Homo sapiens: one gene and its partners. The protein of the gene in region 6 purifies or fractionates together with the protein of the main gene of each other region. This does not show direct contact. Each region holds a gene or a part of one and is shown on either strand. Other genes may lie near its edges. The genes, in order: CLPTM1, PCNX3, ZFTRAF1, ACACB, GTF2E1 and SLC45A2.

Region 1 (4,831 bases), on a different chromosome or scaffold from region 6:
GAGGACCACGAATGACTGGAAAACGCCGAAGAAGACGGAGCGCACGGACAGGCCCTCCAGGGACTGCCGGCTGTTCCAGAACTGGATATCTGTGCGCAGGGGGTAGGGGGGAACCAGGAGGCTGAGGAGGTGCTGAGACCCTACTGCAGCTCCCTCAGGCCCCCTTGGCCTGCATCCTCACACCCTGGGGTGGGGCTGGGTCCTCAGGAGGGGTGCTGAACGAGACCCCTCTCTCCCAGGAAGGCTCTCATATTCATTGGGTGACCCCCAGAGCACCAGACAGGCGGCACCCCTGGAGCCCTCCCATAGGACGTCAGCACCCAGCACCCCAAGGTGCAGTCCCTTGACTGATGGTGACGGTGACTGGTGCCATGGACAGGGCTCACCACGTGCCAGGTGCTAAGGACTGGTCAGGGAAGCTGCTTCCCTGAGGCCAAACAGCCTGGCATGGCAGAATCTGAAGGGACGCGGGGTCTGTGCCACACCATGGTGCCAGCTCGCCCTCCCTGGGAAGGAAGATCTGTGGCATGCACTTCAAGACCACCTCCTCCAGGCCCCTGCCCTGACACCGGGAAGGAACTGGCTCACAGCCATGCTCAGGAAACTGAAAAGGGCCCTGGGCTCCAGTCTGGAGCTCCTTCCAGTGCTCCGCCTAGATGCTGCCAAGGATCCATGTCAGCATGCTCCTCTCTGAGCCCTGGTCTCACCACGGACACCCCTCTCTTGACCCCGCCCGGCTGAGCATCTAACCGCAGCCACAGGAGGCTGAGCCACCACGTCTGTAGCACAGTGGTGGAGCCAGGTCTGCAGTCCTGCAGAGTCAGGGCCAGCTCTGCACTCAGGGAGTGAGGGCTGTGAATTCTGGTCCATGTGCACCCTACCCCATCCCAGAGCTCCCCCACATCCCAGAGCTCCCCCACATCCCAGAGCTCTGGCACACTCCATAGCCTCACCCCACCCACCCCTGCCCATCAGAATGACCCCTGTCCCAACTGAGAAGAATGGGTCTGGAGACAGGGTTCTGGTGGGTTCTCGTGGGAGCAGTTGGGCCCAAGCCTCTCCTTAGACCAGGGAGGCCACACAGCACTGGTGCCAAGTGAGGCCTGCGCCCCCTGCTGCATGACACTGGGGAGGACAGCCTTCTTGTGCCTCATTTCTCACTGGACCCCAGCCAAGCCAGCTCCTAGGCAGAAGGGTCCCGTCTCCCAGCGACAGCTGGTAGATGGCTGGCTGGGGTCGGCACCAGCTCCTGTGCCCGTATGACACTGCATTCTTCCAGATGGTAGTTCTCAATAATGGCAAGAGCGTCCTTTTTTTTGGAACAGGGTGTCACTCTGTTGCCTAGGATGGAGTTCAGTGGTGTGATCATGGCTCACGGCAGCCTTGACCTTTCAGGCCCAAGCCTCCCGAGTAGCTGAGACCATAGGCACACGCTGCCATGCCCAGCTAATTCTTAAAAAAAATTGTGTAGAAACGAATCTCGCTTTGTTGCCCAGGCTGGTCTCAAACTCCGGGGCTTAGGTGATCCTCCCACCTTGGCCTCCCAAAGTGCTGGGATTACAGGCGAGAGCCACCACCAGGCCGGCAATAGCATCTTAATACCAGGAATACTACTACTCATTCCTCTTGCCGCCTGCGGGAGCTACAGGGCCGCAGGCCACTCCTTCAGACTGGGGTGCTCTGGGCAAGGAAGAAGTGGCCTGCAGGGCCTAGAAGATGAGAGTTGGGGCTGGAACCATCTGCCCCTTAGGAACCGTGTGACTGGGCAAGTGACATCCCTGAGCCTCTGGCTCCCACAGGGCTCAAGGAGCTACTGGGGAGGGTACCCAGGACAGTGCCTGGCATGTGGCTGCTTCTCCTCAAACGCTGGCCATCAGTATGGTCAGCCTTAGAACCTAGGGACCTTTGGGGGACAGTGCTCCTCCTTCCCACTTGGGCAGGCCCCGTCCACTCAGCCCTAAGCGGCCTCCCGCAGCAGGCAGCCTGCCGGGCAGGGTGGCGGGAGCAGCTCCGGGGCTTCCCTGCTCTTGGCTCTGGAGTTCCCCAGCCCTGCTTCCTGGCAGTATTGGCCTGGCCTCTGCCCCACCAGCGGGCCAGCCCCTCCCTCAGCTCCACACCCGGTGGGTGGGAATTTCTGGGTTGGGAGTTTTGGGGCCACTGCCCCTCCCCAGCTCACTAGGCCTCTGGAGAGTGGGGCTGAGAGACCCCAGGCAGGGGGAGGACATGTGGGGAGGGAGGGGAGGAGGAAGGGGGCAGGTCCTGTCCCCCACCCTGCACAGCCTCTCACTAGCCCTGGGGTCCTGTTCCTACCATTCTTGAAGGCCAGGAACTCGAAGACACTGTGAACGATAGACACGATGATGGTGAGCGCCAGCAGGTAGGGGTTGGTCTCCAGCAGGGCCACCTGCAGGGGACACATGTGAGCACAGCCTGTCCCCACCCAGGAGCACCTTCACTAGCTTTTGTCCCGAGGGCTGCCCCTGGGGCCGCCTGTAGAGGGAGGCTGAAGGTGGGCCAGCCAGGAGGAGACTGGGTCAGAGATGGGCAGATGGGGAGAGAGAGGAGGGTGACTCACAAAGACAGAAGAGACGGGGAGATGGCACTAGGGGAAGAGGCAGAGGCCAAGGGAGTGCTGCGGGGAGTGGGTGAAGGGACACTGGGAGCCAGGAGCAGAGACCCAACAGTGACGACAGCCCAGGAGGCAAAGCCGAGCCTCACGCCACAGACACAGGCTGACATTTCAGGACCCAGTGAGATGGCAGAGACACAGAGTTGGAGCCAGGGCCAGGGACACAAGGTCTGGGACAGAAGGAGGAAGGGACAGGTCTGGACCCAAAGGGTCCAACAGAACAGCCTGGGGAGAGGACCCCCAGTCATCTAGGGCTGGAGGGCTGGGTGCCCACTTCCTTTCACTGTGGAGAAGGGACCTGGGAGGTTGTGAAACTGTGGGCAGAGGAGCACCAGGCGGGAGGTCCCACAGCCCAGGCCTGGCACACTTCCTCTTGGCCTCTTGCGCCCAGGAAGGCACCGGGAAGTCCCGCCCACACCGGCCGCACTCACCTTCACCGAGTCCTGCTCCTCATCTGACTGCTCGTACAACTCATCACCCAGGAAGTTCCAGGGCGACTTGGTGCTCTGGGCAGCATAGAGCTGCCAGCGCCAAAGCGAGAGTGGGCAGAAGGAGACGCGGAGCGGCAGGCTGGCCAGGCTCTCGTTGATGGGGTAGTAGTCCTTCTGCAGGTTCCAGTAGTCATTGAAGTAGATGATGGGATAGTAGTCACCGCTCACGGCGTCGAACTTCACATCTGCAGCACGTGGGGCAGGGGCACCATTTGGCCCGGGCAGGAGGCCAGGGTACCCGCAGGCCTCAGATGTCTGGAGAGACCCAACAGGGCCCCTCTACAGAGACTGGAGGACAGGGGACATTTCTAGGCCACACCATGAGGAGCTAAAGGGTGCCTTGACCTCAGCAGAGGGGACTGAGGCAAAGGGCAGGCAGGTCCCCACTGAAGGGGGCAGCTGTGGCTCAGCTCCAGCCCACGGCTGCCCTGTGGGTGACCATGTAACCCAGTTTTATAAAATAAGCCAGAAATTGTGGCTTTTAAGTGATACTGCCTCAATTTCAAAAGCTGGCAAGTGATAAGACATTTTTTGAAAACAGTTTGTGGGCTGGATGGCACTTGATTGCGGACCGATGCTGGCGTGTAGAAGTCAGTCCTGGGGTCCCCAGGGGTGGTGGTGTGGGAGAGGGAGAGGACATGGGAAGGGGATAGGACAGGGTGGGAGCTTGGGAGGGTGGAGCCCTGGAAAGCTCTCTCAGGGGGACAGGGCCAGGAGAAGACAAGGAGATGGACCCCGAGCACCCTCTCAAAGGCTCTGCAGGCAGCTGGCAGGGCTGGGGAGCTTACATTGATCCAGGGGAGGGGGCACACTGCCCTTCACCCACGGCGTGTGGTCGTCCACGATGTTGATGGTGATGTTGGGGTGCCAATGGGAGATCACCTCCACAGGCCCATAGTCCTCAGCCCTCTGAGGCAACATGGGGGGAAGGACCTCAGAGGCAGGTGGAAGTGCTCGGGGACTATCACTCTCTGTACACTTCCTCCCCAGGGTTCCCGAGAAAATCTTAATCTTTGCTTTCTTTTTTTTCTGAGATGGGGTCTCACTATGCTGCCCAAGCTGGTCTCGAATTCTGGGCTCAAGCACGATCCTCCCACCTCGGCCTCCCAAAGTGCTGGGATTAGAGGCGTGAGCCACCATGGACAGCTTCTTTTCTTTCTTTCTTTTTTCTCTTTTTTGGAAGAGATGGGGTCTCACTATGCTGCCTGGGCTGATCTTGAACTTCCGGGCTCAAGTGATCCTTCTGCTTCGGCCTCCCAAAATGCTGGGAAAACAGGCATGAGCCATCTCCCCTGACAACCCTGGCAGCAGAATATCAGCCACCACAGCAACTGCTGGCAGAAGGCTCTCCTCCCTAGGCTTAGAGATTCCGCCACCCAGGACCCTTCCGGCCACCGACAGGATCCTCCCACCCCACATGTAGAAAACCGAGGTAGAGGTAGAGGCAGGGCTGGCATCCTAGGCCAGGCTGCGAAGCCCAGCCTCATGACAGCAGGCTCCACACACTCTTGCACGGTGGCCTCAGCTCCATGAGCAGGGACCACCCCCCCAACACAGGACCACCCGCAGAGAGAGGAAGTCTCTTAGTGCCCACTGCAGGTTAACCACAGATTAACTGCCCGGCTCCCCAGCCCACTGGGAGTGACAGCAACTATGAATCCTGCAGTTCCTACTAAAGCCATATTCTCGTGTGTGTGCTTGGAGCCAGGCT
Region 2 (4,831 bases), on a different chromosome or scaffold from region 6:
AGCAGCAGGAGCTGGTGTTCCTGCACAAACATAACCCCGAGCGCGGGAGCATCCAGATGTCACATGGGCAGGGGGCGGGGAGCGAGTGGGGCAGAACAGACTGAACTGCCGCCTGAACCCCGGACCTTCCCCATCATGACATTGTGGGATCCAGATCTCGGGGCCGGAAGGGCAGGCTGAAGTAGTGGGCCTGCCTCAGAGTGCCTGGGTCACAGGTCCCTTTAGGCAGCTGAAGCATGACAGCCATCAGGCCTCGCCTCAGAAAAAAGCCACGGGCACATGTGGTACCCAAAGCTGGGGGCTCCTGGACCTCTTGTTAAAAGGCCCTGTTGGGCAAAAGTACAGGAGCTTTGGAAGACAGGTAGCTGGCATGGCCAGGATGCACGGGCGGGTTAAGGCCGGCAGGGCAGCCAGTGAGGTGATGGGGATTCCATGTGCCACCCTAAGATGGAGCTAATGGGGCAGGCCCTTTGCCAGGGCAGACCCGCTCCAGACTGACTTTCTTGCCCATAGCTCGCCTCTACAATCCAGGCACCACCAGAGCTGCTAAAAAGACCCAGAAAAGAAAAGCTTCAGCCAGACAGGGTGGCTCACACCTGTAATCCCAGAACTTCGGGAGGTGGAGGTGGGAGGATCGCTTGAACCCAGGAGTTCAAGACCAGCCTGGACAACATGGCGAAACCCCATCTCTACAAAAAATACAAAAATTAGCCAGGCATGGTGGTGCATGCCTGTAGTCCCAGCTACCTGGGAGGCTGAGGTAGGAGGATTACTTGAACCTGGGAGGTGGACACTGCAGTGAACCCAGATGGCACCACTGCACTCCAGCCTGGGTGACAGAATGAGACCTTGTTTCAAAAAAAAATAAAAAAAAGAAAAGCTTCAGGGACCGGGAGAGGAGCTGGCCTGGCACATATCAGGTGCTTGGTTAACCTTCACCAGTGCCATCCTTTTCTCTGACACAACACTCACGGTCATCTTAGGAAGAAAATGAAGACGGGGGGCAATACCAGCAGCCGCTCCGCCTGTGAGCGCTCACTGCGAGCTGGGCTCTGCCCAAGGTACTTCCCGGGAAGCACTGCCCAGACTCCGTGCAGCCTCAAGCCACGGTGCCTTTTCCTGCTCTTGTAGCCCTTCCCAGCTGCAGAAGCAGGTCTGAGAGCCCAGTAACTCCCACGGGAAGGGCAAAGCTAACGGGAGGGGCTCCGCCTCGACTGGCCAACCTCGAAGGCTGGAAAGGACCTATCCCTGCAGCTGGGACACTTCCCCAGATGCACCAGGCTCCCCAGCACACCCGCCTCCCCCCGCCCCACCCCTGGCAGCCCTGACTTGTCCTTCCAAGCTTCACCCTCAGTCCACATCCTCAGCGGAGCCACCCCAGGTCCTCCAAGCACTTCCTCCAGACTCAAATTCTGCCCAGCCTTTGAGGCAGCCTTAGATGTGGCCAGTCAGCTTCCCCATGGGACAAGAGACCTGGCCAGGTGCATCTCAACCTGCTGGCCCTAGCCTAGCAGGCACAGCAGGGCAACCTGGGCAAGGGCACCTCTCTCAAGATGGGACCGGAAGGTGGACCAGGCCATGACCTCTCGGTGACCTGGGACTGGGAATGTCCCTCTCTAGACACAGCCTCCTTCTTGATGAAAGGGGGGTGGTCTCACAAATCCTTGCCTAGGAGTGGCTGGGAGGGCAGAAGGAATGACAAATGACAGCTCCTCTGATATGTGGTGTGGACAGGATTTCCTTTGGAGAAGGACAGCCAGGGCCTCGTGAAACTACTCCAGAGAGAACCTAGGTGGCAGGCTCACCTGGGCCCCAGTAGGCCACCCACCGAGCCCAACATAGGGAGCACCAGGGTAGATCCTAAGAAGGCACGTGGGAGCCTGCACTGTGATCAGCAGGCCACCCCACTCCCAGTACGCTTATTCTGAGCACCACAAGCCTCAAAATTCCTTTTTTTTTTTTGAGACAGTCTTGCTCTGTTGCCCAGGCTGGAGTGCAGTAGCACGATCTCGGCTGGCTGCAACCTCTGCCTCCCAGGTTCAAGTGATTCTCCTGTCTCAGCGTCCCAAGTAGCTGGGACTACAGGTGCCCGCCATCACACCCGGCTAATTATTTTGTATTTTTAGTAGAGATGGGGTTTCGCCACATTGGCCAGGCTAGTCTCAAACTCTTGACCTCAAGTGATCCACCTGCCTTGGCCTCCCAAAGTGCTGGGATTACAGGCATGAGCCACCACGCTTGGCCAAGCCTCAACATTTCTGCCATCTCAGAGAACTGCAATAACCCCCACTTCTCAAGGGGTAAGCTGAGGGACACAGGGAAGAAACATTCCAGGCTGATCAGAACCCCCATTCCAGGGCTCCTTATGTACCCCACATTGCCTCACCAACCCCCTCCCACCCCCAAGAGGTCTCAAGATCCTCAGGCCTGGCTCAGAGCCCCCAGGCTAAGGCAGGAAAGCTCTGTGGCTCAGGGCCAGCCTGGGTTCAAGGCCTGGCTTGGCCATTTTCTTCAGATTCTGGAACCTCTGCAAGCCAACTTCCACATCTGTGAGATAGCAGGGCCCCTCTCAAAGGGTGGGGGACTCCACCCAGCTCAGGAGAGATGCCCAGCATAGCGCCCACCCGTGGTAAATGTTACTGCTCAAGCAGCTGCTCCCATGATGATCGTTAACGTGACAACTGTTAGCTCTACCACTGCTCTGTGCTGGGTGAGCTGGGGGCAGGGGCTGGTGGTTTCAAAGGCTGGCCTCTGCAACTGCCCACCTGCCCCATACTCACTGCCCAAAGCAAGCCTTCCTTGCCTGGGCACCTATCAGAGCCATATGGGCACAGAGGCCCCTGCAACCTGAGGTCTGGCAGTGGCACCTCAGGGGACACTTAAACTCTCTGAGGCCTCAGCTTCCCTTGGACAAAACAGGCTCCCAACAACCCAGAAAGGGGGTACTGGGGCCTCTGGTCAGCGAGCGCTCACCCGCAAGGGCCCTGCTGCCCGGCCACACCTGCCCACCGTACCTTGACATAGTAGGTGATGAGGATCTTGCGGAGGTCGAAAACCTGCAGCATGGAGGCAGCATTATTGTCACTAATGCTATAGCCCTCCAGCACGTACTTGCTGGCTGTTACCTCCCAAGCCAGCCAGCGCTGCCCAAAGGCAGCATTGAAGGACAGGACCCGTGGCAGGTGGCCAGGTTCACAGCAGCAACAGCCCTCGTCCTCCTCCACACCCTCGGTGATAGCCTCCACCTCGCGCTGCTGGCAGTAAGTGCCTGTGGAGGAGGGGTGTGCAGTCAGGGGCTGCTAGAACAATCCCTACCTGCCCTGTCCTGGGAGAGTGACCAACATGGCATCAGAGGCCTGCTGCCATTCACCCCCTTGGACGCCAGGGGAGTCAACCTTATTGGATGCCAAGATTCACGAAAGAGCGCCTGCCTTTCTCCTCCCAACTCCCAGCATCCAAGGGCAGGGCGGGAGGGAGCAGGGACACGGTCTGGCCCCTCTGCACTCTCGGGCATCCAACACACACGTCTTCCTGAGAGGAAGGAGCTGGCTCACTCATGGCGCCCAACCCATGGGCCAAGCCTGAGACCACAGAGCAGGCTGGGTGTGAGAACTCAGACCTCCAGGCCCAGGCCCTCACTGCAGTGACCTGTAGAGTCACTGGGACCTAAAGTTGGGGCAGGCACAGGGCTTGGCCAAGAGACCCTGCCACCTCATTGCTCAGACTGGGAAACGCAGGCCCAGGGAGGAGGAGTGCCTTGCCCAAGGCCACCCGCCAGCCTGGACAGAGCTGGACTGGACCTCCTTCGCACGTGCTATTGAACACAGCTCCCACATCAGGCCCGAGCTGTGCCTGCCCACCCGAGCCTGGTCCTGCGGCTCACCCCGGAACTCAAGGCCACGCAGCTGGAAGGTGACGAGGCCATTGCCAACCTCGATGAGGTGCACCAGGGCGTTGAGGTAGTCAGAGGCCAGGACGAAGCAGTCACCAGGGCCATAGTTGCCCCAGCGGCCCAGCACCAGGTCCCCACACAGTGTGTGCTGCAGCGAACGTGTCAAGTGCTCATAGAAGATGGAGTTGAGGTTGTTGTCATCAGCGCCTAAGACCCAGAACAGACGGGCAAATGGACAAAGTGACAAGTTAGCGAGGCTCCCTCCCCAGGGAGGCCCTGCCCTAAAGCCCCTTGGATGGCTGGGTACACACCAGGGTTCCTGTCCAGCTGTGTGACCAGGCGGGTGTTGGAATGATCCACACGTTTAGTGCTGTTCAGAGAGAGTGCAACAAGGCGGTTGGCCAAGAAGGTGAAGAGAGGGTGCACCCTGCTCATGCTCTCCCTGTGCCACAAGGTCAACGCCATCCAGGACAGCCCCGTTATGCAGGCAGATGAGGAGACTGAGGCTCAGGTACATGAAGGGACTCACACAGGACACACAGCCAAGAAGCTGGGAGGCTAAGCTCATCCCCAGACCCCACTATCCCCAAGCTGTGAGCCTGAAGCCTTGGCCTGGTGCAGGCTCTCCCTGCATTGGATCTGCCGCCTCATGTGTCCCCACTGTGACCAAGCCCTCCCATACCTGCTGTGGGCCCCTCTGTGGGTGGCCTCCAGCCTGGGCTCCAAACCTCTCCCTTCCTGCCCTGCTGGGCATGCTCCCGCCTCCTGTGAGACTCACTTGTAGTCGCGCTCCCAGAACTTGAGGGGCCGAGCGTAGGACATGATGAAGACGGCACTGCCTAGCAGTGGGTTGAGAGGCGTGGAGAAGAGCCCCGAGAGCAGGGCCTGGACGAACAGCATGGCCGAGTCTGAGCCACAGTCAAGGAGGCGGCGGGCAAC
Region 3 (5,121 bases), on a different chromosome or scaffold from region 6:
CGTGCGCCCCACACCATCACCTTGGACCCAGAAACACTACGCTAGAGGGCGTCGGGCTTCCAAAGAGATGTAGAGCCATAGCCCAACCCTCTGCGCCTGTGGGTGGAGCATGAGGGAGGACAGCCCCAAAGCGCAGCCCTGAGGTGCCCAAGTTCACCCTGGTGGTGCCAGAGTCAGAGGCAGCTGCTCCCAAGGATGTGCTGGGGGCTGGGTGGGGTCTTTCTTTGTGGTCAGCAGAAAACCAAACATGGGGCCTTCCCATGCCCTTGGTGGCCAGGCCACATCAGCTCTGCAGGAGATAAGGCTCCGGCAGCGAGGCACTCCCAGCAGGCCACACGCCCTGGCCTGGGAGTAGAAACCCACAGCATTCTCAGAAACAGCTCCAGAAAGTTTCAGCCCGTGAGGGGCAGTGCGGCGGCCCGGGAGGGAAGAGCTGACTGGGAGGGTCATGCTGGGCTGTGCCATGGTCAGCCGCCCGGATGATGGCGCTTACATTCTGCCCCCAGTTCCTCTCCATTTCTCAGCCCTCGACCCGTGACCAGCAAAGCACAGGACAATGTGGGCCAGGCCCCAGCAGCCAGTGGGGGCGGGTTGGGCTGCTGTGAGGCAAGTTAATGCACCTGACTGGAGCAGAGGAAACCAGTTCTTTGGTATTGAAGCAACAAAAAGCTATCACGGAAGAGCCACATCTCCTAAGCAAAGGTGGGGGCGTCAAGCTGTATCCTTCCCAGTAGCCCTGGGAGTCCCAGGGGAAGAAAGGACCAGGGATTACCCCTCCAGGCAGGGTTCCTTCCCATCCTGTTAGGCCAGCCCTGCTCAGCCACCACGGGGCACATCAGGGGGCGGCCAGGGTGAGGATGGGAAGGGCCCACCTCCTCCAGGTGAGAAGCTGGGCTGCCCAACCTCTGACCTCTGCAGCGAGCCCTGAATGCAGGGCCAGCAGCAGGACCCCGAGAGCAGCATGGGGGACACACCTCAGACTCTCACCCAGCCAGGCGCCCAAGCACTGACCCAAGCTTTCCACACAGCCTGGGGACGCTGGGCCCTCAAGGCTGAATCTACAGTAAATAGACTCTTTCTCACTAAAATTGTGTAACTTATCCAAGAGCCTGCAAGGAGTTTAATCTTTTTCCTGGGAAGAGACAATTTCACCCTGCTTTCGGAAAATGCCTGCTGAGCCCTGGTGGCTGAGTCCTGTCTCCCTGGGAGCGGCCGGTTGGCCAGGGCAGCCCCGACCCTACCTGGATCTTCCTGCCCAAGCCTCAGTCTCAAGACCCCATGACAGAGTGTAGGGGGAGGCAGTGTCTCTGAGTCTTTCCTCGGGGGACGTGTGCGGGCACACAGATGGGGGCGGGGCAGGCTCTGACCCCCAGGCCAAACCAAAGCCCCCACGCTGTCCATTCACAGCCATGCCTTCCCCTCGAACAAAACAGAAAGTACGAAACAAGGCTGCCTTTTAATTGCTATCAGATATTCGGATATCCCGTCTGATGTCAGCAAGGCCCCCGCGCCCCGCCGGAACCCGCAGGGATGGAGCAGCACCGCCGCCTGACTGCACAGAAGGGCTGGGGCAGGGTCGCTGTGCCTCTCGGCCTCCTTGCTGCCACCGTCTCTGAGCCTCGGGGCGCCTGGTGCACCGTCTCCTCTTCGGGTCAGCCCAGCCTCTGGCGGCCCTCGGAAGGAGGGGAGGCAGGGGTCGGGGGGGTGAGCCGGAGGCGGGGGCCCCGTCGCGCACGCATGCAGACTTGCCCTGTGTTGGCTTCGTTTGTTCTCCTCCTTTGCTAAAGTGATCAGATAGTCCTGTGAAGCAGCTGCCAGCCAGGTGGACAGGGCAGCGGTGCTGGGATGCCGCCCGTGGGCTCCTCGGACATCCTGAGGCCCCGCCCTACTTCTGTATCTGGAACAGGAAGAGCCGCAGGTTGATGTTCTTGGCAGCCAGCAGCTTGTTGCACTCCACGGAGTCAATGATGGGCAGTGGCACGTAGTCCGTCTCGTTGCTCTCGTTGGTGAAGACAAAGTGGTAGATGACGGGGCTGATCCTCACGTCGTCGTAGGGGCCCTTGAGCAGCAGGAAGGAGCACTCCAGCGGTGCCGTGACCTTGCTCTTGAGGAGGAGCTGGAAGGAGAGCGTACGCTTGCAGGACAGGTTGGGGTTACGCTCCGAGTCGTTGACTCGAGCCTTCAGGACCCACGTCTGGTTCAGCACTGTGAACCTGGGCGTCTCATAGTACAGGCGCGTGATGAAGTCGTCTGTGCGGTACGGCCGGAACTGGACCTCTGTGGAGACAGACAGGGCCGGAAAGAGCCGGCTGTTAGTGTGGGCAGGGCTGGGCAGCAACGCCTTCCCTGACCAGGCCGAGGGCAGGCTCAGCCGGGGAGGAAGGCAACTTACCCGGACACCGGGCTCTGCTTGTCACAAGCAAGCCAAACGCAACTATGGCAAATGGAGGTGCACACAAGCTTTGAGGGGAACAACCACAAACAGAATCAACATGGATTAGCTGGAGAGTCCAGAGGCTGCACGTGTCAGGCCACACCCCAGGCGTGCCCGACCCACGCTGGCCTCCCTCACCGCCCCGAGCCCCGGGTGTCCCCCAGGGCGGGGTAAGCAGACACACAGACAGGATGCGGTTCCGAGAACAAGTGCACTTTATTGGTTCTGATACAGAGGAGCTGCCAGAAAAGCCAGCAGGCGGCTGCGGCACCCAGCCCTGCCCGAGGGGAGCACCAGGTCTGCAGGCACCGGGCCTGATCCGGAGCTGCCAATCAGCAGGCAGCCCTGCCTGCACAGTCCTCTTGGGCAGCCCACAGCCTGTGGCCGGCAAGTCCCTCCGTGGAGGCGTGGGTTCCCAGGTGGCCAGTCTTTCCTGCGCGAATGGGGCTTCTCACCTGGCCACGGCCACAGCCACAGTGCCCCAGCCTGCCTAGACTCCACGAGGCCCCGGTATCTCCAGGACAGCTAAGGCTGCTACTCACCACGGGCTGTGGCTGCCGCAGAGACCCCAGGCCCTCGGCCTCTCTGGCCTGCTCGGGCCCACATCCCGCTGGGCACAGTCCAGGCAGCAGGGCGGGACTGGCTGCCCACGACCACCCTGCTTGCGCCACGCCTGGTGCTCTGAGCTGGCCGCCTGGTGTGGGCTGAGAGTAGAGGGATGGAGCTTCCTCCAGTGGCCCCAGCATCAACAGGTGCTTCTCGCTGTCCTCTGGGCCAGGCTCTGGCCTGGCTCCTGCTCCCCGACACGTTCAAAGGCGGTGGCAGCGGCCCAGAGAGCCACGAGATCCAGTGTGCCTGCGCACGCATCCAGCCTGGGCGTCTGTGGGTGTCCACTCCCGGTTCTACAGTTTGAGTCGGGCACCCTCAGCTTGTTGTGGAGCCCTCTCCCTGAATGGCTTCGTGCCAGCCTTGAGAGGCCCATGGCCGGGGCAGTGACTGCCTGCAGGTAGGACCTCACTCGGCAGGGTGCTCTTCTTGCCCCAGGGTCCGAGGGGCAGGCCCCTAGCTCCCAGGCCCCCTGAGACCTGCCCACTTTCTGGTTAGACCCTGACTGTCTTGAGGCTCTGGAGCCCCACAGTGAGATGCCACCTTGCAGGGATGGTGAAGCCAGGGTGGCGAGGACAGGTGGGCGGGGCTGCTGTGAGAGCCACACAGGTGTGCACCTGGGGTCTGCCTCGGCCCCTCCTTCCACTCAGTCTCCGGCCTGTCTTCTCGACCGAGGTGTCCACCTGTCCACCGGGAGCTTGTCCAGAGCCCGGCTGTCCGGCGCTGTCAGTGCCCAGTGCCCAGAGCCTGCTGCCCCCAGACTCCTGGCTGCCAGCCCCCCAACCCACACCTGTGTGGCATGCAGCAGGCGGCGGGGCGCCTCACCTGTGTAGCCAATCTTCTCGAAGCTGAGCAGGCTGAAGATGCTGTTGTACAGCTGCATCTCCTTGCGGTGGCTCTGGTCCATCCCATCCAGGATCTCCATCAGCTCACTGCCTGTCTTGGTCGGGTGGGCGCACGCAGCCTCGTGCACCGTCAGCTCATGGAAGGGGCCGTGCCATGGGCAGCCGATGCGTTTGTACTTGCACTGGGTTACCCTGGGGGAGGCAGGTACATCACTCACAGACTGAGCCCCGAACAGGAGGCTGCAACAAGCTGTCCTCCCATATGGCTTCCATCCAGCTAAGAACCCCTTCCTGCAGGACACACGTAACTGTGAGCCCACCCCCCAGGATGAGGTCAGAGTGGCAGCATGTGGAGAGAAAGGAGACAGGCAGAAAAAGGGAGAGAGAGGGGAAGGAAGAGTGCAAGCTTGAGCCTGTGTGCCCCGCACCATGGCGTGGTTCTCTCCTCTGTTTGGCAGTGGTGGTCCTGCACAGCCTCACTGCAGGAGACTTGGTGGCTGCCTCCACTGGATGGGTAGCCATGGGCAGTGTACCCTCACACCAAGCTCCCTGAGGTCCTGCGTTGGACACGCTGTCCTGGGCCCTTCAAGGGGCTCCCCCACAGCCACAAAGAGCACTGGAAGGCTAGGCTCATGTCCGGATAACAACTGGGTGCAAAACCCACCTGTCCCCATCCTGTGCAGGCACCCTCCCACAGGGCCGTCACTGGGCTACACAGGTGGTCCCCAAGGCCCAGACAGCAGAGACAGCCAGACCACCCTGCACAGGGCCCTGCTGCACCAGGGTGGGCTCCCAGCAGTCCTGGGCCCCGCCTGTAAGGCTAAGCCCCTGACCCTCAGTTACCTGTCCTGGCATTCCTCTTTCTGGTGCCTCTCCAGGAGGGAGCGGGGAAACTGGCGCAGGCAGAAGCCACACTCTGAAGGCAGCTCGCTCACGGCTTTCTCCACGGCCAGGTTCCGGCAGCAGAGGCTCTTACTGATCTCACAACGACAATTGGGGCACGTGGCCTGCTCCTCCTTCAGCCGGGCATCTGCTAGTAGGTGGATAAAACAGCCAGCGCACATCAAGTGACCATTAGTACACTGCGAAGAAGGAAAGGGAGACGAAGCTCACAGACCTGCGGGCTCATGCTCGCACACACCCGCCCATGCCCATCAGCTCCAGCCAGGTGTCCTGAGGGACTCCAGCTGGTGCAGAGGGGCGCACGTGCCTGTCCCGAGTCGTGCTGGAGTGTGG
Region 4 (4,831 bases), on a different chromosome or scaffold from region 6:
CCAGTTATCTAGGAGGCTGAGACAGGAGATGGAGGTTGCAGTGAGATCATGCCACTGCACTCCAGCCTGCATGACACAGTGAGACTTTGTCTCAAAAAAAAAAAAAAAAATTCATCCATACATTTTTCTGGGTGACTAGACAGTATCCAAAGAAACATCATTACAAAAATAGGTTTTCTCTAGTCCTGTCTATATATATATATTTTTTTCCCTTGGCCCATTTATTTGGCTGAAATATATGAGATGCTTACTTACATCTGGTGCTGGTCTCAGAGTAAAAAAATAAAAGATTTCACGATGTGGTATCCAAGGATCCTAAAGAACGCCTGGATCCCACATGCCAGGCACTGTTTTGCAAAAGGAAACAGGGATGTTTTAGCTTGATTAGATTTAGTGATGCAATAAAACTGCTGTCTTCAGAGACAAAACAAAATAAACTTCCCAGCTATGGAGAGGAGGCTGTTTTTGTTTGGAAGAGGCACTCCTGGGCCTTTTGTTAAGACGGGTGTCAGCTCGGAACCAGCAGCCCTGCAGAAGTGCCCAGGATTTTCTTTGTTTAAAAGCAAGTCTTCAGGGTCTGCTGAGGGTGTACGGGTGGTGGGTCTGGGTGGTTCCTTTTGCCGTGGTCCCGGGAGTGGCTGGGCGGGCCACGGTCAGGTGGAGGCCGGGCTGTCCATGGTAGACAGCAGGTGAACGACCTGCGCCCGCTCAGCTGGGCTGATGTGCTGGCTCAGGTATATCACACAGTCCACGGCCACCTCGGGGTTTTCTTCAACCAGGCTGTGGGGGAGGTGAGAGGAGGGCTGGGATCACTCCAGCCACTTTTTCAGTGGCCCCAAGGGTGGCAGAGTCCTTGTGTGGGGCCACACCCCAGAACCCAGAGCTCCCGAGTCCCTGCTGTGGTCCCCATGGGGGTGATGGTCCTGTGCAGCAGGAGGGGCTGTGACCTGAAGTTCAGAATGCCTTGAGGCACCACCGTCCCTACTGGTCACTGCTTTGTGACATGACCTGAGACAAGACACTGCCTTGAGTCTCAGCTTCATCCCCAAAATGGGGTCCCCTGTGCTCGACTCCCTCCTTCACGGGGTGACCCCATGGCAATTGGGGGAGGGGACCCTCTGGAAAGGTCAACACTGGCGTGGAAGACAGCAGCCTGAAGGCTAGCGGTTCCAAATGTGGGTTCTGTGACCAACCCTGCTCCAGCTGTGACTTTGGACAAGTCCATATTCCAGCAAGGTTCATGAGTTGGAAGCATCTCACACGGCCTTCAGAGTACCTCTAGGCTCTCTGTCCCACCCCAGCCACTGTGCTGGGAGACCCGACATTAGGGAGTGTGGTCTCTTTGCTGGGGAGCGGGGAGGGGGCGGGGACAACCCCAGACTGCACAGGGTGGCGGGTTCAAGTGGCTGCATAGGAGTCGGGTAGCTAGGGGTCAATCCAGGCTCGGGTCCTTGCCAGGAGGCTGGGAAGCAGGTGCGGTGGCCACTCACCCTCGGATGGTCTTGAGGACAGAGTCGTGCTTCAGGTACGTGATGTTCTCACGGATGGTGGAGCGCGGGCCATCCCCTGCCTGCCAGTGCTGTTCCAGCCACTGCACAACCACCTGGTTGTTGTCCCACAAGTAGGCCTGGGGAGGGGGCAGAGGATGCCTCAGAGAGGGACCCAGCTGTGGGCCAGCTGTCTCAGCCCCCAGCACCCCCTGTGCTCACCGGCCTCGTTCTCACCCCAGGCCCACCTTGACAGCCCCCTCCGTCTCCACGAACCAGCGACGCAGCATGGACTGGATATGCACGTGACTCAGCTCCCCGCTGGCCTGCAGGATCTCCTGCTTGACCTGGTCCTCCAGGAGGAGGCGGCGCAGACGCCAATACAGGAAGGTGCGTGCGGTCTTCCACTCCAGGATGTCCTGTGGACGAGCCAGGCTTGAATCCCCGGAAAGGGAAGGAGGAGACGGGACACTGGCTCTGACCACACCCATGACAGTGGCTGCCCGGGGCTGGGCCCAGGCTCTGAGATCATTCCCAGATCATCCCAGGCAAGTAAGCTGAGGCTCAGGGAGGAGAAGGCACCTGCTCAGAGGCAGGACGTCACCAGGACTCCAGACTGGCCATAGTTGAAAAAATGTCCCCCATAAAAACCTGGCACCCACTTCTACCTCAACCGACACAAACACAGGCTCGTGTGAGGCATGAGTCAGCTGGGAGGGAGAACAATGCAGCAAGAGAACCAATGAGCACTGGACATGGGTAGGAGGTGACTGTGGGAGTCCTTGCAATGGTGAGGGGTGGGTGAATGCTGGACAGGAACAACGGTTTCTACCCCTGGTCCAGGTCCAAACTGACCGAGCCATCAGACTAGTGGTCCCTGAACTTTGCTGCTTATTAGAATCTCTTGGGGATCTTTAAAAAATACGACCGCCTGGCTTCCATCCAGGTGTTTGGATTTCACTGGTCTGCAGTGCCACCTGGGGATCGGGATTATTTTAAAGTTCCCAGGTGACTCCCACCTCCTGCAGCATTTGACCCATCCCAACCACCACCGCCCTCCCCGCCCCCGAGCCCAAATGTCCTCCATGTTTTGGAAAACAGGGTGGGCTCTTTGCACCCTACACGGCAGCTGTGGCTCTCACAGATATGACGCCCTTCTCCAGCATCCGGCCGGGTGTGTCATGGAAGTCGGCGAACTGCACCGCCACCTGGTGGTAGATGGGGAGCAGCAGGTCCTCGCGAGCCTTTAGCCGGCCCTCCAGGTCCTTTCGGTCCTTGTCGGAGAGATCAGGTTCCCCTGCAGGTGAGCAGAAAGGCCAGTCAAGCCATGGAAGCTGGTCATATGTGATGGGGTGGAGATTTTTTTTTTTTTTTGAAGAAGGCACAAATCAGGATTTGCAGGACAGGCCTTGCCTTGTGAGAGGTCTGAGCTTTAACTCTGATATTACCCCTGCTGCTACACAGGCTGCCCTCAGCCCCCTAGGTCCCCCAGAGTCCACTGGCCTGGCCCCCACCCCAGGCCCATCTTGATGGCCCCCTTTGTCTCAGATCAAATAGCTAGTACAGTCTCAGAAATGCACTCACAATTGCAAGACAGCATTCAACATGCAACTCTACATTTTCCCCTTCCATCAGACCCATCGTGCTTGTAGGATACTATATCAATGATTTTTAGTACACATTGTAAAATATGATAAGGGAATATTATAAGCAACTCTATGCCAAATTGACAACTTAAGATGAAATAGACAAATTCCTTGAAACACACAAACCACCAAAGCTCACCTAGGAGGAAACAGATAACACAAATAGTCCTATATATAACAAAGAAGTTGAATTTATAGGTAAAAACCTCTATCAAAAACATAAAGAAATAATGCCAATTCTGCAAAAACTCAGAAAATAGGAGCGAACACTTCAACTCATTCTATGAGATCAGCATTACCCTGATACCAGCCAAAGAAATTACACGCACACACTGTAAAAAATCTTGTGAATAGCACAGTTATAAAGACACTGACACTTAAAATGGATATTTAAATATCATCTTGTGGCCAGACTTAGTGGCTCACGCCTGTAATCCCAGCACTTTGGGAGGCTGACGCAGGCAAATCACTTGAGGCCAGGAGTTCAAGACCAGCCTGGCCAACATGGTGAAACCCTGTCTCTACTAAAAACACAAAAATTAGCCAGGTGTGGTGGCACACACCTGTAATTCCTGCTACTTGAGAGGCTGAGGCATGAGAATCGCTTGAACCTGGGAGGCAGAGGTTGCAGTGAGCTGAGATTGCGCCACTGCACCCCAGCCTGGGCAACAGAGCAAGACTCTGTCTCAAAAATAAACAAATAAATAAATAAAGATAATTACATCTAAAGATGACAAGTAAAACAAAGCTGTCATTCAAACAAAATTAGTAAAATATCTTATCTCTGATTGGGAATTCTAAAGGAACATTTTGCCACCAAAATTCTGATAATCCCCATCAGCCCCAAATACTTCAATTGCTATCTTTTGTGTATGCTGAGAAATAAATTCACGATGGCAATATATATATATATATATATATATATATATATAATGTTAAAAAGGTTGATTTAGAAATGTGAATGTCCTCCAATCATGGTAGCTCATGCCTGTAACCCCAGCATTTTGGGAGGCTGAGGTAGGTGGATTGCTTGAGCCCAGGAGTTTGAGAACAGCCTGGGCAACATGGCGAAACCCCACATCTACAAAAATACAAAAATTAGCTAGGCATGGTGTTGCGTACTTGTAGTCCCAGCTACTCAGGCTGAGATGGGAGGATGGCTTATGCCTGGGAGGCAGAGGTTGCAGTGAGCTGAGATTGCACCCTGCACTCCAGCCTAGGCAATAGAGCCAGACCTCAAAAAAACAAAACAAAACAAACAGACAAATGTGAATATCTTTAAAAATCTCACAGTTATTATAGCTGTATTTTGGTATTTTTTCATTTTATTTTTAACATCCTAGAAACCCCCAGCAGTGGGCCAGCTGGGCCTCTCTTGACCTCTGAGAGGTGAAGCCTTTGGGACCCCCTTACCTAGCTGTTCCATGAGCTTCTTGTAAGCTGGATCGATCCTTCTCATGGACTTTATCAGATCTTTCTTTCGGAACTTAATCTCCACTGTCCCCTCTGGTTCCAGAACACCACCCCTTAAAAGAGAAGAGGCAGGGATGGGGGTATATGAGGCATTGCCCAGCAAGCAAGGGCTAATGGATGTGGGGGGAGCTGGAGGGAAGAGAGCCAGAAGATCTGGGTGTCAGTCCTCAGCTCTTTTACCCCCACACATGCTGTGTGCCCTTAGACAAGTCACTTTCCCTCTCT
Region 5 (4,831 bases), on a different chromosome or scaffold from region 6:
GACTTAAATGACTCACTCACTCTGAGGTTACTGCTTCTCTTTATATATAATCCTGAACACAGAGTTTTTCTCTATTCTCTATCTTTAGCATTGACTACAAAGACTGTCTTATGAAGGTATGAGGAGTACTTTGAGAAAAACAAGAAAGCTAGAGAGAAAAGAACAGAATTAAAATAAATGTTAACACAAGAGTACTTTTAAAAAGTCTTTTGTTTTTAGTATTCTGTCATAGAAATTCAAGATGGGTTTTATTCTAGTTTGAGGCAGCAGACATTTGACCATAAGTCAAACAAATTTTAAAATTTGGAACAATTTTAATTGAAGATGACAAAAATGACAATTCATGTTTGAATCTTTTTATATTATTTAATAAATTTTAGAACTTTTAAAAGATACAACTCTTACTCAGAGATGAGAGGGGAATATTATTTCAAAACTAAATTTTTAAAAATCTTTAAGGTAAGTGTTAAGAGATGATGAAAAAGGGAAGGTTACTAGCAAGGAATTCCACTCTAGAAAGATAGGAAGATTTTTATATCTCATCAATAGGTTGACTTGCTGAAAGGATAGAATTGTCCATCAATTCTTGGGTTAGGCCTACTGACAGTTCTGCAGAGGTAGCCCCTAGTTTCTGATCTAGGGACAAGCTAGAATTTAACTGATTACAGATCAGTAATCAAACTAATAATATTGCCACTTATTTAAAAAAAGAAAAGCTATCATCTCTGAGTTCCCATACCATTCTATTGATGCCTCTTCTCTTGTACTGAGGCAGGATGGACTATTACATCCTTGGGGCAGGATGGGCCATTTCAAAACTTCATACTCCTATAGTACAGAAAGGCCAAATCAATACCACCTCCAGGATGTTATATCCAAGCAGTGGAATTTGTCAAATGCTTTGGTGGGGACATTATAACCTGGGTAACATCTTCTAACCTAATGGTTTTTTTCCTGACCACGTGGAAATGATTTTACTTTGGTCTGGCTGGCAGCTCTAGGAACCCCATTCTGTCTTTCTTGTCTGCCTCCATTTCCTCCCTTTTTTCTTAATGACCAGATTTTTGGGTATCCTTTTTTCCTGATCAGTTTATTTCCTCTATTTCCTGGTTCTTCTTCATCCCTGGAGTCACCATCATTCCTGATAAGAAGAAGATGACTTGATACAGAGAGCTGCTGTTGGGCCTCTGGTGTCACTGTACCACTAAGACTCATCCAAGGCCTGCAGTGAGTGGGGGATATGGAAATAAAGATCCTGGAAGGGGAGCTGGATTGTGGTAGGTGGAGAACATTAGAGACAGGAAGCCAGTGGTGGTGGTGACTGAATGCTATTGTAGTGGGGAAGCATCTTGATAAACAGGACAAATAACTACAGGTAGGAGAGGAAACATCAGAATAATTCAGATAGTATATTGTGTAGGAAGCAATCAGATACTACACTGACGCATACTTCAACATGAAATAATCCATAAGCTTAGAAAATTTTGTATTTTTGTAAAATCAATTTCCCTCATAAGCTTGTATGTTAGAGCTACAATATAACTTAAAAGGACTGAAAAAGATACAAAAAGAAAAATTCCTTTTTCAAAAGAGGAATTCCTTTTCTTACACAAAAAGAAATAAATAACCAGTACCAAAAGTTAAGGCTATCTGTGATACAGATGTTATTAGTTTCCTATCAACTGTGGCTCCTTTCTTTCTTTGCTTATTGGTTTTATTAAAATACCAATGGCAATTTGCTCCAAAGAACTCTGGGACCTTCCCCAGTCCTAGAAGGTAAACCTTAACTAGTCTAAGTACCAGTCATGTGATCTCATTTCCTTTGCCAGCTGCTGGTTTAGAAATATGCATATAAAACAATTGCAGCCAGTGAGACATCAGGGGATAAATAGAGTATCCTAGGGAGCCCTCTGGGAAACCTTTCTTCAGTTTTAAAATAGGACACAAGGAAGGGACGGTCCCTTTTTCTGCATTTGGACATTGTCATCTGCACGTGATACCTAGAAATACATGGCCATATTAGACTAGCTCCCCTCATGGTCCCAAGAGGATAATCAACAGGCTGAGTTCAGCAGAGTATAAAGATGGAACAAATCTAGATCCCTGAAGATATAATTGAGCTGTGAAATTAACCAGTTTTGAACTGTACTACTTCAAGACTTCTAGTCATGCAAGACAAATTTTCTTATTGTTCAATCTACTGCTAGACTGGATTCTAATTCCAACTAGAGCTGGATATTCTGTTATCACAGGCAAAGGCATCCTAACTGACACACGGTACTGGATTAGAAAATTCATAACTCTTACAGATACAAAATTTTCTGTAGAATTGGATTGCTTTGAACCATCTAAAAGGAGCCCAATTTACTCAGGACTGGCTATTCTGTAACATCAGTACCACAGGAAATAAAATACTAAGAATGCTCCTAAAAACTATACAAATACAGCCTGATTGTTGAGCTCTTTGGAAGGGAGTGGGTGAAGTGAAGGTTAAATAAAGATATCCCTTACTTGATGCTGGGAAGAGGGAGAGAAAAAAAAGGGTAGAGTAGGAGAGCACTCCCTGACCCCAATTTTCATTTATGCTTTTCAAGAAAGAATATAAACCACCTTTTCTGGCATGGCAAAACTAAGGTTACCTCTGAAATTCAAACATTAGGGAACACTGATAAAAATAGGGAGCCACTGTTAGGAGTATTAACCCATAGGTAACACCAGCTATACTTTACTTTCAAGGAAGTTGCAATTACAACTAAGAAATAAAGGTGATTAAAATGCTTCAAAAACAAAAAAGAAAATGCTGAATTCCTTAAAGGCCTTCAGCCTTCAGAAGCTGGCTAGGAAAATTCAAATATCCCCAAGCGGCACAACTAATTTAGGATTAGCTAACAATTGGCTGAGTTGCTGCAGTCCCAAGCAGAATGAGTACTTGAAGTCAAACCTAAATATTTAAAGATTTTTGCCTGAAGTCCACAGTGTTCTGCATTTAGAACAAACGAATTTCATCACAGGCACACGTTAATCAGACAAATGTGGCACAACTGAGAACCTACGTAACATTACAGTCTTGAGTCTCCTAGTAAATTACCCACTCTTGTTCTCCAAGGTACAGGTAGTTAAAACAAGAACAGGTTGAAATGTGTTCTTAGTAAGAGCACAGGGCCTACACTCACCTCTGTTTCAGGGCTGGGATTTCTGTGGGTTCTGGCTCAAGTATTTCATAGGCCAAGTTCACATCCTCTGTCTCCCGAAGCAATGCATAAATGGGCTCAATTTGTTCATTAAACCTTGCCAAAAGTGTGCGTGCATCTTTTTTGGGCATTGCTGATTCATCCTCTTCTACCTCTGTATGGCAAAAAGTACAGCGGAAAGTTCCTACAGAGAAAACAAGTATCTCAGGTCAGAGAGAAGACTTTAGCAGATAGTTTATACCTCCACCCTCCCCCAATATCTTATTATTAAAACTTTCAAATATACACAAAGGTTGAAAGAATTTCACAGTGAACAGCCATGTGACCACCATTTAGATTCTACAATTAGCATTTTGCTATTCATCACATATCTATCCATCTATCATTTTTGATGTATTCAAAGTAATTTCATCCCTAACTTCAGCATAGTTTTTAATCACAATATTTCTAATATGTATTTATTTTAACTTAAAGCCAAATTCTTTACAGCTTACCACCACAACTTGTACCCTTTCCTGGCAGCTTTAGTCTTTTTTGTTTTCACATTACACATTTGGGCCTACGTTATGGGGAAAGCCAAATAAATACCTAAAACCAAGAGTTTCTAGTCATCCTGAACATTGTCACAGGCTATTTTTTAAAATTTATTAACCATTTGTATCTAATCAATTCAATCTATTATGCTAAAACTCACACTCTTAAACATTACTTAACAGTCTACACCACTAGCCACACCTGGATTTCCAGTTTGGTTCTTATTCCCAAAGACAGGAATATGCATCCTTCCTTTCTGACTCAACTTACTTGAAAGATTAAAAGGGAACATGTAAGTACTTAGTGTCTGGCAAATAGTTAAGTACTCAAACATTTAGCTATAAAAGGCCCCATGTATGATTGATACATAAAGAACAAACAACCAAGTGATCTCTACTTCAACATAACACTAGATCCTACTGATACATTACCAGTATAATAATTTTCTTTACTGCCCCTCACACATAGCCAATAGCATGTAAATTATTTGTTCAAATACCCTAAAATACATCTTCTTATTGTCTAAATGCCACCTAATCTACATCTATCCCAAATAAGTGAGAAAGAGAGAGAAATGCAGCCCTTCACAGCTAGGAGGTGGCTCAGCACTCACAGCTAGACTGTGGCATTTTTCTGTCAAACAAGATCTCACAGATCACTAACATCAGACTATGATGGAAGTGAGGCAAACCCAAGCCACTGTGGAATTGCGTCTGAGAACAGACAAAAGCAAGGACTCCATGCAAACCACAAAAAATCCCATCTTGCACAAGTGACTGCTGCTTCTTTACCATTTAGTTTTAGCGTCACTCTGTTCTTGTCACCTCCTAGATAAGATTTATGAAGATACCCAATCATAGAATTATCCCCACTTCTTCACAGCATCCAATCCAAAGGAAACCTTCATCACTTCCCTGAATCCTCCCCAAAATTACCCAACAAAAGCCCACATTCTCTAAGTCTGTCCAACATCATCTTACCGACATTTCATGGTTTCCCCATGGTATGTGGCTTCCCTTGCTGCAGAAAGCATCAATAAACCTAACTTTGTTTACTACAGGTGCGTACCTGATAGCTTTTGACTAATGGTCACGAACATAAAGATT
Region 6 (5,324 bases):
AGGGCAAGAGCTCATGCCAAACCCTGGGGCAGGTATGATGGGCTGGGCTGACCCCAGAGACAGAAGGACGCCAGCGGGGTGGGAGCACCCGAGTGAGGAGACACACGTGGAAAGTGCAGTGGGAAGGGAAGCCAAGAGCAAAGGTGAGGCAGGGGAAGTCTCAAGCCCTGGCCATGTCTTAGGTGCCTTTAAACACCTGGAGACATAGTGGGCAGGGGCCAGTGACAGACGGGGCTGCACTCCTGCCCCTCTGCCTTCCTTACACAGAGGAGGATCTACCAACTGTGCTCCAACGGCCTCACTCCTTCATGTTTTCAACTATTCAAATGTTTGCTCAAATGACAAATATTGGCTCCAGTGGCTTCCATGGGCAGGCAGCAGTCTTAGCTCTAGAGACAGAAACTATGAGCAAAACTTGAAATCTTGCTTTTCATGGACCTACCTGGCCATGGAAGGAGAGAGAATACATCAAAACATAAATAAAGGCATTGGCTGGGCTACAAAGACAATCAAATAAGGTGGGCTGATAGAGTCCCCCTCTTAGATATAAAAATCCTCTTGGGCCAGGATCCTCCTGTCGCCTTATATTTCAATGCCTAGTTCTAGCATAGTCCTAACTGGTGCTCTGAGTAGCATTGCTCTAAACAATTGACCAACAGTAACCAAAGTAGGCTGGCAACAGTCCCAAGAGATCAAGAGAGCTCCCATTTTCCTCCTGGCATGAACTTTTTCAAACCACAAGGTTGAGGAAATGCCAACCTTTTACATAACTAAGAAATTTCTAAGACGTTGAGTTTTTTGTTTGCTTGGTTTGTTTTCTCTTTTTGTTTTTTAAACCTGCCACAAAATCATCTGGGGTCTTTATTAAATAAAATACAAATGTCTGGGCCCCGCCTTAGACTCACTGAATCAGAATAACTGGAGAAGGAGCCCAGGCAACTGTATTTTCAATGACCTTCTAAGGAATGTGGATGCTACATTGCTGATGCTTGAGATCCTCTGCTCTAATGCAAAAGTACAATCCACAAGGCTTCTTTCCATTTCAGTTGTAATTGTCTCCACAAAGCATTCTTAAGAAAGCTCTTCTGTAAACTTCCTTTGCAGAAACTGCAGCACTAGTCACAAGCTGACTGTTCAGAGAAATGCACGGGGAGACAGTGCCCGCATGACGGGAGCAGCCCATCAGCTGACCCGTTCATTCAAAAAACTCCACGTGTAGAGACACTGGATGGCTTTAGTGGAAGTGCCTCATTGTCTGGGGAGCTGAAGGAGAGACTTTCTGGAATATTCCCTACCTGTGAAGAGGGCATGGTAGTGGAGGCCCTTCTCCTTGTCCTGATGGGAGCAGACATCAAATAAGTAGGCTTTGATGGGCCCATCAATGAAGTCGGCAGCAAAATCAAAGAGAACGACACCTATCATGGTGACACTTATGGCCCAAACCAGCTTCCTCCTTGGGTTAGCAATCAAAGCTAAAAGAAAAATAAACATTGGTCTCCTAAATCCTGTTTTAGAATCATCCGCGTTTTGTAATTTCCACCTAAACTTCTTGCCATAAAATCATCTTCCTTGCTTTTATTTTGCTTTTTTCCAAATAAAAATAGCTTTACATTTTTTTTCAGGTTTTAAAAATTATGCAAGCGAATGTCCAGAAAACACAAATCTATGGAGACACAAAGTAAATTAGTGGTTGCTTAGGGCTGGTGCATAGGGGAAAAGTGGACGTGACTATTGATGGTAATGGGTTTATTTTGGGGGTGATGAAAATGTTGTAGAATTAGAGAGTGGTAATGGTTGCACAACATACTAAAGGCACTGAATTGTACACTTTTAATTAGTGAAATTTCTGGTATGTAAAATATCTCCTTAAATAAAAAAGTATGCATGCTTATCGCAAGCAATTCCAATTCTATTAAAAAAGCTGAGGGAGATGCTTCCAATCCCAGCCCCAGCAAAGGTCAGGCTTTAAGGCCTCCTTTTACGCACTTCTGCACATACAGACACACGTGTACAATGGTAGTCAAACGCAGTGCTTCTCAAAGTCTGGCATATTGAACTATCGCTTGTATGTCTTGTTAAAACACAGATTGCTGGCCCCATTTCCCAAGACTCTGATTCAATTGGTGGGCCTGAAGGGGGCCCGAGAAACTGCATCTCTAACGGTCTCTGCTGATGCTGAGGGGCAGGTCAGAGGCCACATCTTTGAACAGCACTGATGCAGTAACCAACTTTCTTCATATAATTTCAGCTCCTCACAATTTTTAACAGCTGGATTTTCATTCTACGGATACGCTGTAATCGTTTACCCAATCTCCTATAAAAGATACATTGTTGTTTCTCTTGTTTCCATTTGCTTTTTAAACTTAAGAATAGCATAGATTATATACACGTTTTAAAAATTGCAGTATAAAATTAAATGAACAATAAGTCTACCCGCCACTTCTCACCTCCTGTCCTTCAGTAATCCTCCTTAGAGTCAACAATGCTTATCAGCTTTTTGTTCATTCTCCTGGAAATATCCTACATTTGTACATTTACGCTTTCTTTCAAATATGTACAAATGATAATTGATTATCCTGCCTCATAATCACCGATTCTGCTAGCTTGAGAGTTAATGATCTACAAATGTGTGCTATTTTTAGCGATCCTTTTTGCAATGCAACTTTATTGTACTACCATCAATTACTGATTAATTGGTAGCTGATTAATGGCTAGAAAAAATGCCTACCCTCAGGTTTGCTTTTGTCCAGAATTTGCAATGCCAGAAAGGTCCTCTTGAGCTGATGGGCTTATGCCCTACGCCTATTAAAACGCTCTACATAAAACTATGAACAGAATTAACTTATTTGGATACACAGGTGACTTATTGTAAATATTTATGGAGCTATTTGGCAGCCAGTCAATTTGATAAGAGTATTAAATAGAGCATAATGGGCTCAAAAAGTAACTCAATTGATAAATATGTAAAAATATTCAATTCGATAAAATAGATACAAATTTAATAAAATAGATACAAATTTAATCCTATTTTTAAATCTTCACAACAATGAAACATATTTATTTTGATATTTCTAGAAGTAGAGGCTCCCCAACCACAGAATCTGGGCCAAATTTGTCAAAGGGGAAGTTCATTGTAACCTAGGAGAGATCAATTCTAACAAATTTCTAGGAAAGGTCAAACACATGAACATCCTCCTCCTGCAGAGGTACACACTAAGACACATATCCCTGTCTGCCCACCTTGTGCAGCCCACTTACCTGCTACAACAGTAGCCCCATTGAGGTACAGAGCCATGCCCACGAGCATCATGACTCCCAGGGTGAGGATGTAGGGTCTCCGGCGGCCCCACCTGGACCGGCAGTGGTCGCTGGCCGATCCGACCACGGGCTGCAGCAGGAATCCCAGGATGGGGCTGAGGAACCACACAATGCTGTACAGGCTGCTGGGCAGACCTACGCTGAGCAGGACTGGGGTCACATACGCTGCCTCCACCGCGTAGCAGAACTCTCTTCCGAACATGGCCATGCTGTGCATGATGAGTCTGCTGGTGGGTCTTTTAGGCGGCTCCACAGAGTCAAAGGGGCCATCATCAGCTAGGGATTTATAGATGTGGCGGCCAGCCTGCCCACTGTTGCTACCCATGGCCACTGGGAGAGGAACCTTCCTGCGAGCCCACCACCTCCTGCGTGGTCCTAGGGTCTGTGTTTCAAACTGGATTTGACGTGGAGCCTGGCCGAGCAACCAACAGAGATGGTCAGGCTGGGGGAGGGGCTCAAATTCTTTCCTGCCTCTAAGATCACAAGTTATGATGAGAGGGAGGGGGTGGTGCTGGAAAGCATGACAGAGATTAGCAGCTGTGAATCAGCCCTCTGGCTCCATAAGACGTTGGAATACTTTTCTAAAGGGATCCTCCTTTGTACTGTTCCCTCTCTCTTTCTCTCTCTCTCACACACACACACAATTACACGTGATCACACACATGGCTTCTCTCCCTCTCACACACACGTTATTACACGTGATCACACACATGGGCTCTCTCAGACAGTATTACACATGATCACACACATGGTTTCTCTCTCACACACACATGCTATTACACATGATCACACACGTGGCTTCTCTCACACACACATTATTACACATGATCACACACATGGCTTCTCTCACACACACGCTATTAAACGTGATCACACCTGGCTTCTCACACACACATGCTATTACACATGATCACACACGGCTTCTCACACACATGCTATTACACATGATCACACACATGGCTTCTCTCACACACATTACACATGATCACACATGGTTTCTCACATACATGCTATTACACATGATCACACACGGCTTCTCTCATGCATGTTATTACACATGATCATACACATGGCTTCTCACACACATGCTATTACACATGATCACACATGGCTTCTCTCACACACATTACACATGGTCACACATGGCTTCTCTCACATGCGTTATTACACATGATCATACATGGCTTCTCTCTCACATGCTATTACACATGATCACACATGGCTTCTCATGCATTTTATTACACATGACCACACACATGGCTTCTCTCACACACGTTATTACACATGGTCACACATGGCTTCTCTCACGTTATTACACATGATCATACATGGCTTCTCTCACACATTATTACACATGACAGCTTCTCTCTCACACACTATTGCACATGATCACACATGGCTTCTCTCACACACACATGCTATTGCACATGATCACACATGGTTTCTCTCTCACACACGTTATTACACAACGATCACACACGGCTTCTCTCTCATACACATTATTACACATGACCACACACATGGCTTTTCTCTCACACACACTATTACACATGATCACACATGGGGCTTTTCTCGTTATTACACATGATCGGACTCATGGCTTCTCTCACACACACATGCTATTACACATGATTGCACACATAGCTTCTCTCTCACACACGTGTTATTACACATCACACACGGCTTCTCACACACGTTATTTTACACGATCACACACATGGCTTCTCTCACACACGTTATTTTACATGATCACACACATGGCTTCTCTCTCACAGACGTTATTACACATAATTACATATGGCTTCTCTCTCTCATACACACATGCTATTACACATGATCACACACATGGCCGTGAGGTAATAAAGCCTTATTACATAGAGTTTGTCAAAATGTAAATAAATTGATATCTTTTCATAAACTTTTTATAAATATAGACATTCTATTTTTTACTACAAGTTTTCCACACACACAGCTCAGGAGTGAAATAACTAGATTTAAAATGGTGG

Evidence for each region.
Region 1: the proteins of SLC45A2 (region 6) and CLPTM1 purify together in Homo sapiens (affinity purification with mass spectrometry; one large-scale study listed by BioGRID and IntAct). This does not show direct contact.
Region 2: the proteins of SLC45A2 (region 6) and PCNX3 purify together in Homo sapiens (affinity purification with mass spectrometry, with the first as the bait; one large-scale study listed by BioGRID). This does not show direct contact.
Region 3: the proteins of SLC45A2 (region 6) and ZFTRAF1 purify together in Homo sapiens (affinity purification with mass spectrometry, with the first as the bait; one large-scale study listed by BioGRID). This does not show direct contact.
Region 4: the proteins of SLC45A2 (region 6) and ACACB purify together in Homo sapiens (affinity purification with mass spectrometry; one large-scale study listed by BioGRID and IntAct). This does not show direct contact.
Region 5: the proteins of SLC45A2 (region 6) and GTF2E1 purify together in Homo sapiens (affinity purification with mass spectrometry, with the first as the bait; one large-scale study listed by BioGRID). This does not show direct contact.

Annotation. Positions count from the first base shown.
Region 1 is NC_000019.10:44,985,653-44,990,483, reverse strand, and holds part of CLPTM1 (putative lipid scramblase CLPTM1), read right to left. Parts: intron 4,030-4,831; coding exon 3,909-4,029; intron 3,306-3,908; coding exon 3,061-3,305; intron 2,405-3,060; coding exon 2,311-2,404; intron 90-2,310; coding exon 1-89. UniProt on the Homo sapiens protein: Involved in GABAergic but not glutamatergic transmission. Binds and traps GABAA receptors in the endoplasmic reticulum (ER).
Region 2 is NC_000011.10:65,628,788-65,633,618, reverse strand, and holds part of PCNX3 (pecanex-like protein 3), read right to left. Parts: intron 4,801-4,831; coding exon 4,671-4,800; intron 4,263-4,670; coding exon 4,204-4,262; intron 4,100-4,203; coding exon 3,884-4,099; intron 3,269-3,883; coding exon 3,015-3,268; intron 1-3,014.
Region 3 is NC_000008.11:144,448,494-144,453,614, forward strand, and holds the end of ZFTRAF1 (zinc finger TRAF-type-containing protein 1), read right to left. Parts: intron 4,968-5,121; coding exon 4,729-4,967; intron 4,078-4,728; coding exon 3,866-4,077; coding exon of another isoform or gene 3,687-3,865; exon of another isoform or gene 2,632-3,686; intron 2,278-2,631; coding exon 1,886-2,277; 3' UTR 1,089-1,885; downstream 1-1,088. Other genes in the region: TMEM276-ZFTRAF1 (uncharacterized protein LOC157542 isoform 1 precursor), read right to left, coding at 1,886-2,277, 3,866-4,077, 4,729-4,967.
Region 4 is NC_000012.12:109,262,185-109,267,015, reverse strand, and holds part of ACACB (acetyl-CoA carboxylase 2), read right to left. Parts: intron 4,660-4,831; coding exon 4,547-4,659; intron 2,785-4,546; coding exon 2,630-2,784; intron 1,907-2,629; coding exon 1,736-1,906; intron 1,628-1,735; coding exon 1,491-1,627; intron 781-1,490; coding exon 654-780; 3' UTR 1-653. UniProt on the Homo sapiens protein: Mitochondrial enzyme that catalyzes the carboxylation of acetyl-CoA to malonyl-CoA and plays a central role in fatty acid metabolism.
Region 5 is NC_000003.12:120,769,272-120,774,102, reverse strand, and holds part of GTF2E1 (general transcription factor IIE subunit 1), read right to left. Parts: intron 3,376-4,831; coding exon 3,174-3,375; intron 1-3,173.
Region 6 is NC_000005.10:33,980,941-33,986,264, forward strand, and holds the start of SLC45A2 (membrane-associated transporter protein), read right to left. Parts: upstream 3,754-5,324; 5' UTR 3,644-3,753; coding exon 3,259-3,643; intron 1,473-3,258; coding exon 1,296-1,472; intron 1-1,295. UniProt on the Homo sapiens protein: Proton-associated glucose and sucrose transporter. May be able to transport also fructose. Expressed at a late melanosome maturation stage where functions as proton/glucose exporter which increase lumenal pH by decreasing glycolysis.